2 separate regions of the Homo sapiens genome follow, and region 1 is linked to region 2. Evidence: fine-mapped expression QTL. A gene starts in region 2. The other region holds a variant in brackets. All regions are shown on one strand. Distances are between the middles of the regions.

Region 1 (5,363 bases), 23 kb before region 2:
CTCAGGCAATCCTCCTGCCTCACCCTCCCAAGTAGCTGGGACTACAGGTGCACACCACCATATCCGGCTAATTTTTAAATTATCTGTAGAGATGGGGGTCTCCCTATGTTGCCCAGGGCTGGTCTCAAACTCCTGGGCTCAAGCAGTTCTCCCACCTCGACCTCCCAAAGCGCTAGGATTACAGGCATGAGCCACTGTGCCCAGCCCCAAGCTTTGTCTTAGCAGAGGAAGGAGATATTTCCCGCCATGGGGTAACTCACGTGAAAGGGTAGACCATGGCAGCCACTGAGGGCTCGTCTCGGGAGCAGACATAGTCAAAGTCCAGCATGCCTTGCACGGCCCGGGTCTGCATGCCCCACACAATGGCCTTGGTGTGGCGGCTGAAGAGGGTGGTGCTCTTTCCTGGTGGGCAAAGACACAGAGAGTGCACCCAGAACACATACCCCCAGGAGACCTGCAGGGGCCAGGGCTGCCTGACAGACCCCTCCACGCCCCATGTCCACAGGGTGATGCCTCATCACAACCGTAAAGGAATGTCAAGAGGACAGAATTCTGAGAACTTGGGGAGGAGGTGCCTCGATTTTTCTGGAAGAAGGTGGCAGAAAGAGCAAATCAAGCTAAGAGGGCCTGCTAGCTGGTAAGTAGCTCTGCAAAGAATGGAGAAAGAAGGGCCCCACAGTCAAAGATGCCCAGGATAATTCCTATAGGACCTGCTTCATTTCCCAGGCAAGGTGTGTCATCAGCTTATATGCAAATGAGGTCTTAACAAATTATTTTTAAAGTCATTGGAAAAAAATGCTTAGCTCGCCCAATTTTGGTGGGTTCAGGACTTATGTTCCAACAATGCTTATTACCCTGTAAATCTGGACATAAAACCAGCTCCAGTCAGGGTTTGAATCAGCATGAATTCTAGGTCAGTGTAGGTCCAAAGAAGAGGTTTGTGCAGCCGGGGCTGAGGACACAGCAGCCTTATCGCTAACTGTGGTTCTGGCCAGGGCTCTGCACAAGGCAGGAGCAGCAAGCTAGTTACACAGGGCCAGTGCCCTCAACCTGCTCTCCTGTTTTTCCTGTCCTTCTCCCTTCTACCAGGTGGCTCTTTCCTGCTCAGGACAGTGCTCTTGGACAGACCCTCCAGTGGGCACTTAAGAGGTAAGGCGCAGGTCAGGTGTGGTGGCTCACGCCTGTAATCCCAGCACTTTGGGAGGCTGAGACCAGTGGATCACTTGAGCTCAAGAGTTCAAGACCAGCCTGGCCAACGCGGTGAAACGCTGTCTCTAATAAAAATACAACAATTAGCTGGGTGTGGTGGGGTGGACACCTGTAATCCCAGCTACTCAGGAGGCTGAGGCAGGGAGAATCGCTCGAACCCGGGAGGCAGAGGTTGCAGTGAGCCGAGATCGTGCCAGTGCACTCCAGCCCAGGTGACAGAGCGGGACTCCATCTCAAAAAAAAAAAAAAAAAAATTAGCGTGGTGGCATGCACCTGTAATCCCAGCTTCTTGGGAAACCAACACACAATCACTTGAACCAAGGAGGCAGAGGTTGCGGCGAGCCAAGATCGCACCACTGCACTCCAGCTTGGGCCACAGAGTGAGACCCTGTCTCAAAAAAAAAAAAAAAAAAAAAAAGGGTAAGGGAACAAAAGGAGCTGGTAGAAGTGCAGTTCTCTAGGTGGGCATAGTGGTGCGTGCTTGAGTCCTAGCTACTTAGGAGACTGAGATGGGAGGATCACTTGAGCCCAGGAATTCGAAACCAGCCACCGCGGCATAGTGAGACCCCACCTCAAAAAAAAAAACAACAAAGAAAAACCTTCCATGATGCGATTATTACGCATTGCACGCCTGTACCAAAATATCTCATGCACCCCTACTATGTACCCACAAAAATTTTAAAAAGAAAATTTTAATGCAGCAAGTATATTTAAAAAAAAAAAGAAAAAAGTGCAGTCCTTAGCCTAAAGGGAAAGGACTTTTACCACGCTTCAGGCAGTTGACTTTCCCCTCTGGGTCCCTGCAAGTCCAAGAGGAGGAAAGCAGCCCTCAGGGAGGTTCTGAGCTCCCCTAGGAAGAATGATGCATCTAGCCCAGTGGCATCTCGTATTAATTAACCTACTGTACTAGAGCAGGCTTGGCTAACCAAGTTCATGGTCTCATTAAATCCCTGTACAGGCCTGCCTCTTCCATCACAGCCTTACAGCTTCTCATGACAGAAGGTTCCTGATGTTGCAAATACCTGGGATTTACTGTCACCTAGACCCCCCGGGTTCTGCTGAGACATGAGATCACAGAACAAGGGGAGCCACCTAATCCAGTTCTCCCACTTCCCAGTCCTAGGAAACTGAAGCCCAGAGATGCCAAATGATTGAGGTCCGAGGTCATCCAGCATCAGAGCCAGGATTACACAATCACTTAAAATGCAGCTCAACTGTGAAAGTGAGGAGGGAGAATATAAGTGTGAGTTCATGACCCGCCATCCTCAGGGGAAGCCTGCATCATGTCACCCCCGCCAGGTGACGCACGTGCACATGCCTCTGATCTATCTACCCTGCCAGCTACAGAAATCAAGACAAAGCCTGGAATCTACCAACCTACCAGCATCTCCAGCAGGAAGGGTGGAGGTAAAGTGGCCCTTCCTCAAGCACAGAGAAACCAAAGCTGAAGGGTGTATCCTCAGCCCACCAGCAGCAGAGAGGCTCCA[G/C]AGAGAACCTCTGTGCCAGGGGCTATGCCCCCTACACCAGGCCTCCTCTGGCCTCGCTGAGGGGAGGGCTCGCTCAGCCATAATCTGTTCTCCCTGACACACCCTCCTTTTATTTCTCTCACTCCAGAAAGTAACAAGGATAACCCCCCTCCTCATAACCCTCCTCCCCTTCAGAGCACAGAGAGCTCCTGGAGAACCAGGGCTGGTCCCTGTTCTTTCCACACTGGGCTCACTCTGCTCTTAACTTTTTCCAGAGGCAAAAACATCAGGATTAAAGCCAGGTGGCCACAGTGCTGCATTCCAGGCCTTTCCAGCTGGTTATCGACCCTGCCAATTACTCCTTCCCCTCCCCTTAGCAAGGGGACAACAAAGACTTCCCCGCCTCCACGGCTGTGAATGTCAAAGTTAAATGGACGCTCTGATGCCATGAACCAATTAATCTACTCAGCTAGGCTGGTGGGTGAATGCGCATGCACAGAAGTATCCACTGTAAAATGTGACCTCATACACCAGACAAAGCTCATACCCCTTCCAATTACCCAGTCACTAGATCCGCTGCACACCCTTCTGCGCTTCCGTCTACCTCCTTCTTCACCTCTTTTGTTCCTCCACCACAACCCCAGAAAAAGATAAACTGGTCCCTGGAGCTTGAGGATGAAGCTGGCAGTGGTGAAGCCGAGGCAGGAAAGGTGGGAAAATGACATCAGGAGATGTAAATGAGAAGCAGGGGTGACTTGTGGCTCCCCTTCTGCACCCCAGCAGTGACAGACGCCCACGACTCTCTGCCACTCCCCATTTAGTTGGATGGCTCCCTCCTTCCCAGGCGACACTCTCTCCTTGACACCACTACACTCTCCAGGGCTGTGGGTCTGGCTCTTGCTCCTTCCAAAATCTCTACCCCTTCCCAAGCTTGGAGCCAGAAACAGCCACACAGTGAGGAGAGGACTGAGTGGGGCGCGTACTGAGCACGGATAGGAGGGGAGGAAGAGCGAAGACTTAGGACTTGGGGTCAGGCCACATCAAGGCAGGGACAGAAAATAGACCAGACGACACTGCAACCCACCAGGGGAGGGGGAAACAGAGCACACAGTAAAACTGTCACCCGCTAACAAAGCCACACGCGGAGTGGGGGCAGGGTGGGGGCATCCTACCTTGCAGGGATCTTGGACTTGGGACTGAATCTGTCAAAGAAAATGACCAAGGCAACTGAGTGACCCACTGATGGCTGGAGGCTTTGGAGGGAGAGGGTGGGAACAGGGAAGGGTCCCATGGACAAGCCTTTCAGGGCTAAAGCCCTCATCATCCCTCTCCTGTTCTGCAATGGACAACGGAGTAAGGCCAGCAGAAGAGGTGAAAGCACCGATGAGCAGAATGGAAGCAAGAAAGAGCAAAGACCAAACGGGCAGAGAGGGGGCAGGAGGAGGACAAAGGCTGGGCAGATGTGCTCAACACCAGCGCCTCCCCCAGGCCCTCTGCAGGGACAGCTGGATGACTTGAACTCTGGGCTCTCTAGCTGGCGCAGTCCCACCCTCTTAATGCCAATCCCTTTTTGTCTCCATGAAACACTATGAGATGATTGGCCAGCATGGGGTTGACCCGTGCCATGGACAAGGATGCTGATTTGGGACAGTGTCACTATTTTCCAAAATGCCATAGCAAAGTGTGTCCCAGGAAGAGGCTGCACAGGTATACCAGCCCAGGGGTAACTAACACCACTTATGTAGAGCTGGCTGCAAGGGCTGGCCGGCAGGAATCACATCTACACGGAGAGAAAAATTAGTTGAAATACAGATGGGCTGACAGGCGGGGGCTTTTCTTGCTGGGGATTCAAAGGAGGGAATGTCTGTTAGGGCCCCAAGATGGTGGGGGTGGCCTGGGAACTGCTGTTGTATGAGCTGGCTCTGCCGTCCTGGGGTCCCGGTGTCTGCCCTCCACTCAGGAGAAGAGTCTCAGAGAACTTTCCACTTCCTGGGATTTCTGTAACCCTATCTCCTCCACAGCCTCCCTGCCCAGTCCACACCCCCATAAGAAGAACCAGGGGTAGAAGAGAATAGGGGGAGTTGAGGCGACCAGGCACGGCGTGGGTCCTCTGCCTCAGGAGCGCCCACAGGGAAGGCTCAAGTCATACCATCCTCGTGTCCCAGGTGCACTCCCATTGCAAAACCCAAACCGCTGTTCATCTGCCTCTGCCAGCCCAGGGGGGAAAGGGAAAGGGGAGAGAGATACAGAGGGTACCGCAAGGCCACTCCCTGCAACATGCCTGAAGCCTCAGGGAGTTACCTTGTGGCATGGCAGGCTTGGCCTTCTTTGCAGGCGCCACCTCATCGGCCCTGGACTCAGAAAAAGATGCTGTCCTGCTGGGGGCTGGCGTCTGGGGTGAGATAAGGAGAGAGTGTAAGAGGTAAGAGTCACACCTGGGAAAAAAGCCACTGGTCCTTAAAGGCCCCAAAGAAAACTCGTAATAAAAATTATGCACAGCAATGCTCTTTATAAGCTGCTTCCAAAAGTACTAATAATCCTCTAAGATACGAATTAATATTATCCCATGTTACAGATCAGCAAACTGAGGCCCTGGGTGGACAAGGTACTGGCTAAGGTTGCTCTCTCAGCAAAAAGTAAGAGTAACGATTTTTAAGTTTTTCTTTTCTTTTCTTTTCTTTTGAGACG
Region 2 (5,363 bases):
GGGTCTTTGGAAGGGGGATAGGAGAGAAGACACAATGGGATAATACAGGATAGAAAACAAGAGATTTGCCACTAGAGCATTCTGGCTTAGAGACGGGAGGTTGAGACAAGGAATGTATACAACATAATAAAAATAAGGCCTCTGCAAATTCACCAATAAAGAGAAGGCAAATGGCTCACAAACCCAGGGAGTGGACTCAGTAGAGATAAATCGCAACTTTAGTGGTTCAGTGAGGTCTTCTGTTTTTTTGTTTTGTTTTGTTTTTTTTTTTTTGAGAAGGACTCTGGCTCTGTCGCCCAGGCTGGCGTGCAGTGGAGTGATCTCGGCTCACTGCAACCTCAGCCTCCCAGGTTCAAGTGATTCTCCTGCCGCAGCCTCCTGAGTAGCTGGGATTACAGATGCACGCCACCACGCCCATCTAATTTTTTTTGTATTTTTAGTAGAGGCGGGGTTTCACCATGTTGGTCAGGCTGGTCTCGAACTCCTGACCTCGTGATCCACCCACCTCAGCCTCCCAAAGTGCTGGGATTTACAGGCATGAGCCACCACGCCCGGCCTTCAGTGAGGTCTTAAAGTCTCTCTAAGGCAGTGGCTCTTAACCTCTTTGAGGCCTCAGACTCTTCTGAGACTGAAAAAAACCCCAGAAAAAGGTACACAAATCCAATTGTGCATATTGTTTCAAGGTGCTCACCTGTGACAATGATCCGATGGCCCACAGACTGACCACCAGTTAAGAACATTTGCGGCCAGGCACGGTGGCTTGCGCCTGTAATCCCAGCACTTCGGGAGGCCAAGGAGGGCAAATCACGAGGTCAGGAGTTTGAGACCAGCCTGGCCAATATGGTGAAACCCTGTTTCTACTAAAAATACAAAAATTAGCCGGGCGTGGTGGTGCACACCTGTAGCTACTGGGGAGGCTGAGGCAGGAGAATCGCTAGAACCCAGGAGGCGGAGGTTGCAGTGAACCGAGATCCACCACTGCACTCCAGCCTGCCGACAGAGCAAGACTCTGTCTCAAAAAAAAAAAAAAAAAAAAAAGAATATTTGCTCTAGTGGAATCAGCAAATACCTACAAATACCTATCTGGGTTTGGGACCGCTCCCCAGAACGTCTTAGTCTGCCTCCCCAGTAGCTGAATGTGCTGTCAAACAAGTAACAGATGATTGGGCTGAGCTTGGACTCCAGGAACTGTTACTTGGTAACAGCTAAATGTGTAAACCATTTGGGGGAAATCATGCCAAGGAACCTGAAAACACACACATACACACATTCTCTAAGGGAGGGGCCTTATGAGCTGAATGGAGTCTTTCTGCAGACGGGTGAGTGACCCAGGATTGAGTTCACTTTTAGCAGACACTGAGAGAAGCAGCCCACACAGGAGGCTGAATGAAAGAAGCCTGTTCCCCAGAACACGCCCCTGGGACACAGCCAGGGGAAGGGAATCACTGGGGATGCTACTAAGGGTGCCTCTGGGAAAGACAAAAACACTCATTTGAAGGTTAGTATCTGCAGGATTGGGACTTACGTATGTAGGTATTTATTTATTTATTTTTTGAGAAGACAGGCAATCCCTGGAGTAAATTCTAGAGAGGCAGAATTCTGTGAGTGCCCCTTACTGCGGCAGGCATAGTGTCAGAACGGGGATGGAGCCATAAGCTGTCCAGTGTCTGAGGGGTCTTCCCACTACCGCCCCCCAAGCTGTTTAGGAAGGTTTCTAAGAGGTGAAAATCACCCATCTGGGCAAATGAGACCTACCAGCTGTCCCTCACCCCACATTTTAGTTCAGCTGAGCCAGCTGAAAACACAGAGGAAAGTTAAGGGTGGAGAGGAGTAGGCTAGCTGGCCAAACTGTGCTGTGCACTTTTCCTTATCGTCTCTTCCAAAATCCTCTTCCCAGGAAGACCTCCAGGGACCCCATAACGGCAGAACTCGGCACTGCACGGTATCTGCCAAGGTTGGAGACCGCGGCAGGCGCTGGGACTGGCCCATTGCCAGGCTCGACAGGAGGGCGGCGGCAGCATCCTCCAGCCCCTTGAGGACCTTTCCCCGGCCAGACTTGGCGTCAGCTCAAGGGTGGGGTGGCACCCCGGCCATCTGTCACTTAGGGGCTGGACTCGACGATACCTCCAGTGCGAGGAGGGTCCTTGCTGCGAGATTCCAGTCCTCGCGGCGAGACGAGGCGAGGCCTCGGGCACCCTGGGGCAGCCTGGCCCCGCGTGGCCCGCCCCGGAGGCGCGCATAGCTCATTCTCTCCACTTGGGCGTGGAGCTCAATTTTGTACCCACGGAACCAAGAAGGGCCTGAGCCCGGCCAGTGAGGAATCGGAGTGGGACCAGTCGCCACCGCTTTCTCTACTTCCCGTCCCGGCATCCGATGGGGGAACCCGGATGGAGCCAAAAGGCGTCCCGATGAGCCCGAGGAGCCTCGATAGCTGTGCCCGGGAGGGGTGAGGCGCGCCAGGAGGGGGACCATGCAATGTGGCAGAGGCAGAAGAGGCAAGGATGGCGGCAAGCCCCATGCAAACTCCCAGGAACTGGAATATGTGTGTGTCGCGCGGGGGGAGGGGAGGGGCGTCGACACGCGGCCACCGGCCGGGACCCCGGGCGAAGGCTAACCTAAAGCTAAGACCCTCAAAACTTCCGAGCAGGGCGCGTGGGCACCGAGCCCGCGTCGGGGAAGGCGGTTCCGGGTTGGGGGACGGAGGCAGGAAGCTCCTAGGGCGAGCGGGCTCCAGCCAGCGAAAACAGCCTCCCGTGCTCACCTCTGCCGAAGTCCGTGCGCGGCGCTTCTTCCACAGGCCCGACGAACCCCGCAAAATCCGGAGCACCCCAGCAGCCGGTAGCTTCCCGGGATCCGGCTTTTGTCCCGGCCCAGCCGGACTTTTCCCCGCCCCCATCGGCTCGCGGCGAGAACGGCCCCGCGATTGGCCACACGCGTTCCCTAGCCTGAGCGCCAGGGCTCCTCCCAATTCGCTGCTGGCTTGGCTCCGCCCCACGAGGGCGGGCCCCGGGGCCTGCTGGGACTTGTAGTCCCGCTGGCCCATCCACCGCCTCTTGGGAGCCTGCGGGGCCGGGGCGGGGCCCCGGGTGGGGAGATGGGCCGGGCTAGGCTGGGAGGAGAACGCGCGGTGCTGGGGGTTGTGGCCTGATCGCTTGAGGGGCTGGACAGATTGCCACTCGGGGAGTTGGGGGAGGGGCGGGTAGGATTAGCCCAACTGGCTGTAACGCAGCTTTGGGACCTGGAGTACCCTTGCTCCTTCCCTTGGGAGAAACGGACGTCTGCATCTCGGCCGCACCGAATCCGATTGCTTAGACAGTCTCCTTAAGCAGCAGTGTCTGGCAGGCCGCTTTCCTTTAGCACGTGGAGCCTCTCTCCTCCCTGGACTCTCCCCACTGGGCCGATGAGGCAAGGCTGAGCCGAGGCTAACAGAGCATACTTCCCAGTGTGGGATAAGGCAGGGGCCGCGGTAAGCAAGTGGGGCTAGGAGGGTGCAGGCACAGCGCTGTCCGTCCCACTCACCTGCTCGCCTCAGCACGGATCAGGGCGGAGCTAGGAATTCAATGCGAGATTCCAGCGAAGGGCTGGAGCCATCCCAGACAGTCTCTTGTTCCCACCAACCACAGGCTTAGACACTGGAATGAATGAACTGCTGTCTCCCCCTTCTCCATTACCTGAGACAGATCGAATTTTCCAAACCAAAAACTGGGACATCCAATCTGACAGGTGCTGGTGAACTTGTGGGGCAGAATATGTGAAATCAGTCCTGGAAATCAGGACATGTATTTACCACTCTGACATGCTGCAGCCTCCCTCCCTACCTGCACCCCAACCCTGTAGGTCCGGAGCTGCTCCCTAAGCCTAACAGCTGTCTAGCTCCAGGAAGGAGGCCAAAAGCGTCCACTGACCGACTCAGGTGAAGAGGTCAGCCCAGAATGCAGGGAAGCAGCAGGCCTGTCCCCCTGCCAAGCACTTTGGGTCATACTCACACTGCAACAGTGTTGCGACATTTGCAGACAAAATCTTCTCCAAGACCCCCTCCCCCAATCCTGTTGCTGCCAGGAGTAAGGTAACTGAACTTGCTACCCATGCCTGAATCAAGTGTTCCCTGATGATGTCACTTTCTGGTCCCTTCCCTCCCATTCATCTTTTTGAAATAGCAGTTCCTTATCACCTCTCTTCTCTTGTCCTAAAATGGGGGTGGCCAGTCTTGGTGGCTCACACCTGTAATCCCAGCACTTTGGAAGGCCAAGGTGGGGGATCACTTGAGGTCAGGAGTTCAAGACCAACAAGGCAAAACCCCATCTCTACAAAAAATACAAAAATTAGCCAGGCATGGTGGCACACGCCTATAAATCCCAGCTACTCTTGAGGTTGAGGCATGAGAATCGCTTAAACCCGGGAGGTGGAGGTTGCAGTGAGGTGAGATTGCACCACTGCACTCCAACCTGGGTGACAGAGAAGGATTCTATCTCAAAAAAAAAAAAAAAAAAAAAAAGATACACTCCAGGCAAGGCATGCTGTCTCATGCCTGTAATCCCAGAATTTTGGAAGGCCAAGTCAGGCAGATTGCTAGAGCCCAGAAGTTCAAGTACAGCCTGGGTAACATGGTAAGAGCCCCCACCACCACCATCAAATCTCTACAAAAAATAAAAAGACCGGGCGTGGTGATTCACATGCCTGTAATCCCAGCAATTTGGGAGGCCTAGGTGGGTAGATCACCTGAGTTCGAGGTCAAGCGTTCCAGACCAGCCTGGCCAACAGGTGAAACCCTGTTTCTACTAAAAATACAAAAAATTAGCTGGGCGTGGTGGCAGGTGCCTGTAATCCCAGCTACTCAGGAGGCTGAGTCAGGAGAATCGCTTGAACCCAGGAGGCGGAGGCAGGAGAATCGCTTGAACCCAGGAGGCGGAGGCAGGAGAATCGCTTGAACCCAGGAGGCGGAGGTTGCAGTGAGCCGAGATCGCACCAGTGCACTCTAGCGGGGGCAACAAGACCAAAACTCCATCTCAAAGCAAAAAAAAAAAAAAAATTTAGCTGGGCACTGTATCGGGTGCCTGTAATCTCAGCTACCTGGGAGGCTGAGGCAGGAGAATTGCTTGAACCCAGGAGGCAGAGGTTGCAGTGAGCAGAGATCGTGCCATTGCACTCCAGCCTGGGCCACAGAGTGAGACTCCGTCTCAAAACAAAACAAAACAAAACAAAAAAATAAACAAAAATTAGCAGGGCATGGTGGTGCACACCTGTAGTCCCAGCTACTTGGGAGACCGAGGTGGAAGGATCACTTGAGTCCAGGAGATCAAGGCTGCAGTGAGCTGAGATTGTGCACTCCAGCCTGGGCGACAGGGTGTGACCCTGTCTCAGAA

Alleles and levels. Alleles are on the strand shown, and positions count from the first base shown. SD is a standard deviation of normalised expression in the study named.
In carriers of allele G in region 1, the expression in tibial nerve of the gene that starts at base 2,833 in region 2 tends to be lower than with C alone (small effect, 0.17 SD a copy in GTEx).

What was found. PIP is the estimated chance that this variant, and not a neighbour inherited with it, causes the effect.
Region 1: its variant is the best candidate, but not a certain one, in a credible set for the expression of ACLY in tibial nerve (GTEx, PIP 0.50).

What each region holds. Positions count from the first base shown.
Region 1 is chr17:41,892,773-41,898,135 of GRCh38, forward strand. It overlaps ACLY (ATP citrate lyase), which reads right to left. Exons shown (of 29, transcript NM_001096.3): 13 at 4,977-5,067; 14 at 3,848-3,877; 15 at 261-402. It overlaps LOC124904005 (a long non-coding RNA gene), which reads left to right and starts at 413. Exons shown (of 2, transcript XR_007065757.1): 1 at 413-2,616; 2 at 2,951-2,994. RefSeq lists a silencer at 771-971. The variant G/C (reference allele first, on the strand shown) is at 2,697.
Region 2 is chr17:41,916,119-41,921,481 of GRCh38, forward strand. ACLY (ATP citrate lyase) reads right to left here and starts at 2,833. Exons shown (of 29, transcript NM_001096.3): 1 at 2,762-2,833. RefSeq lists silencers at 2,236-2,475, 2,956-3,215.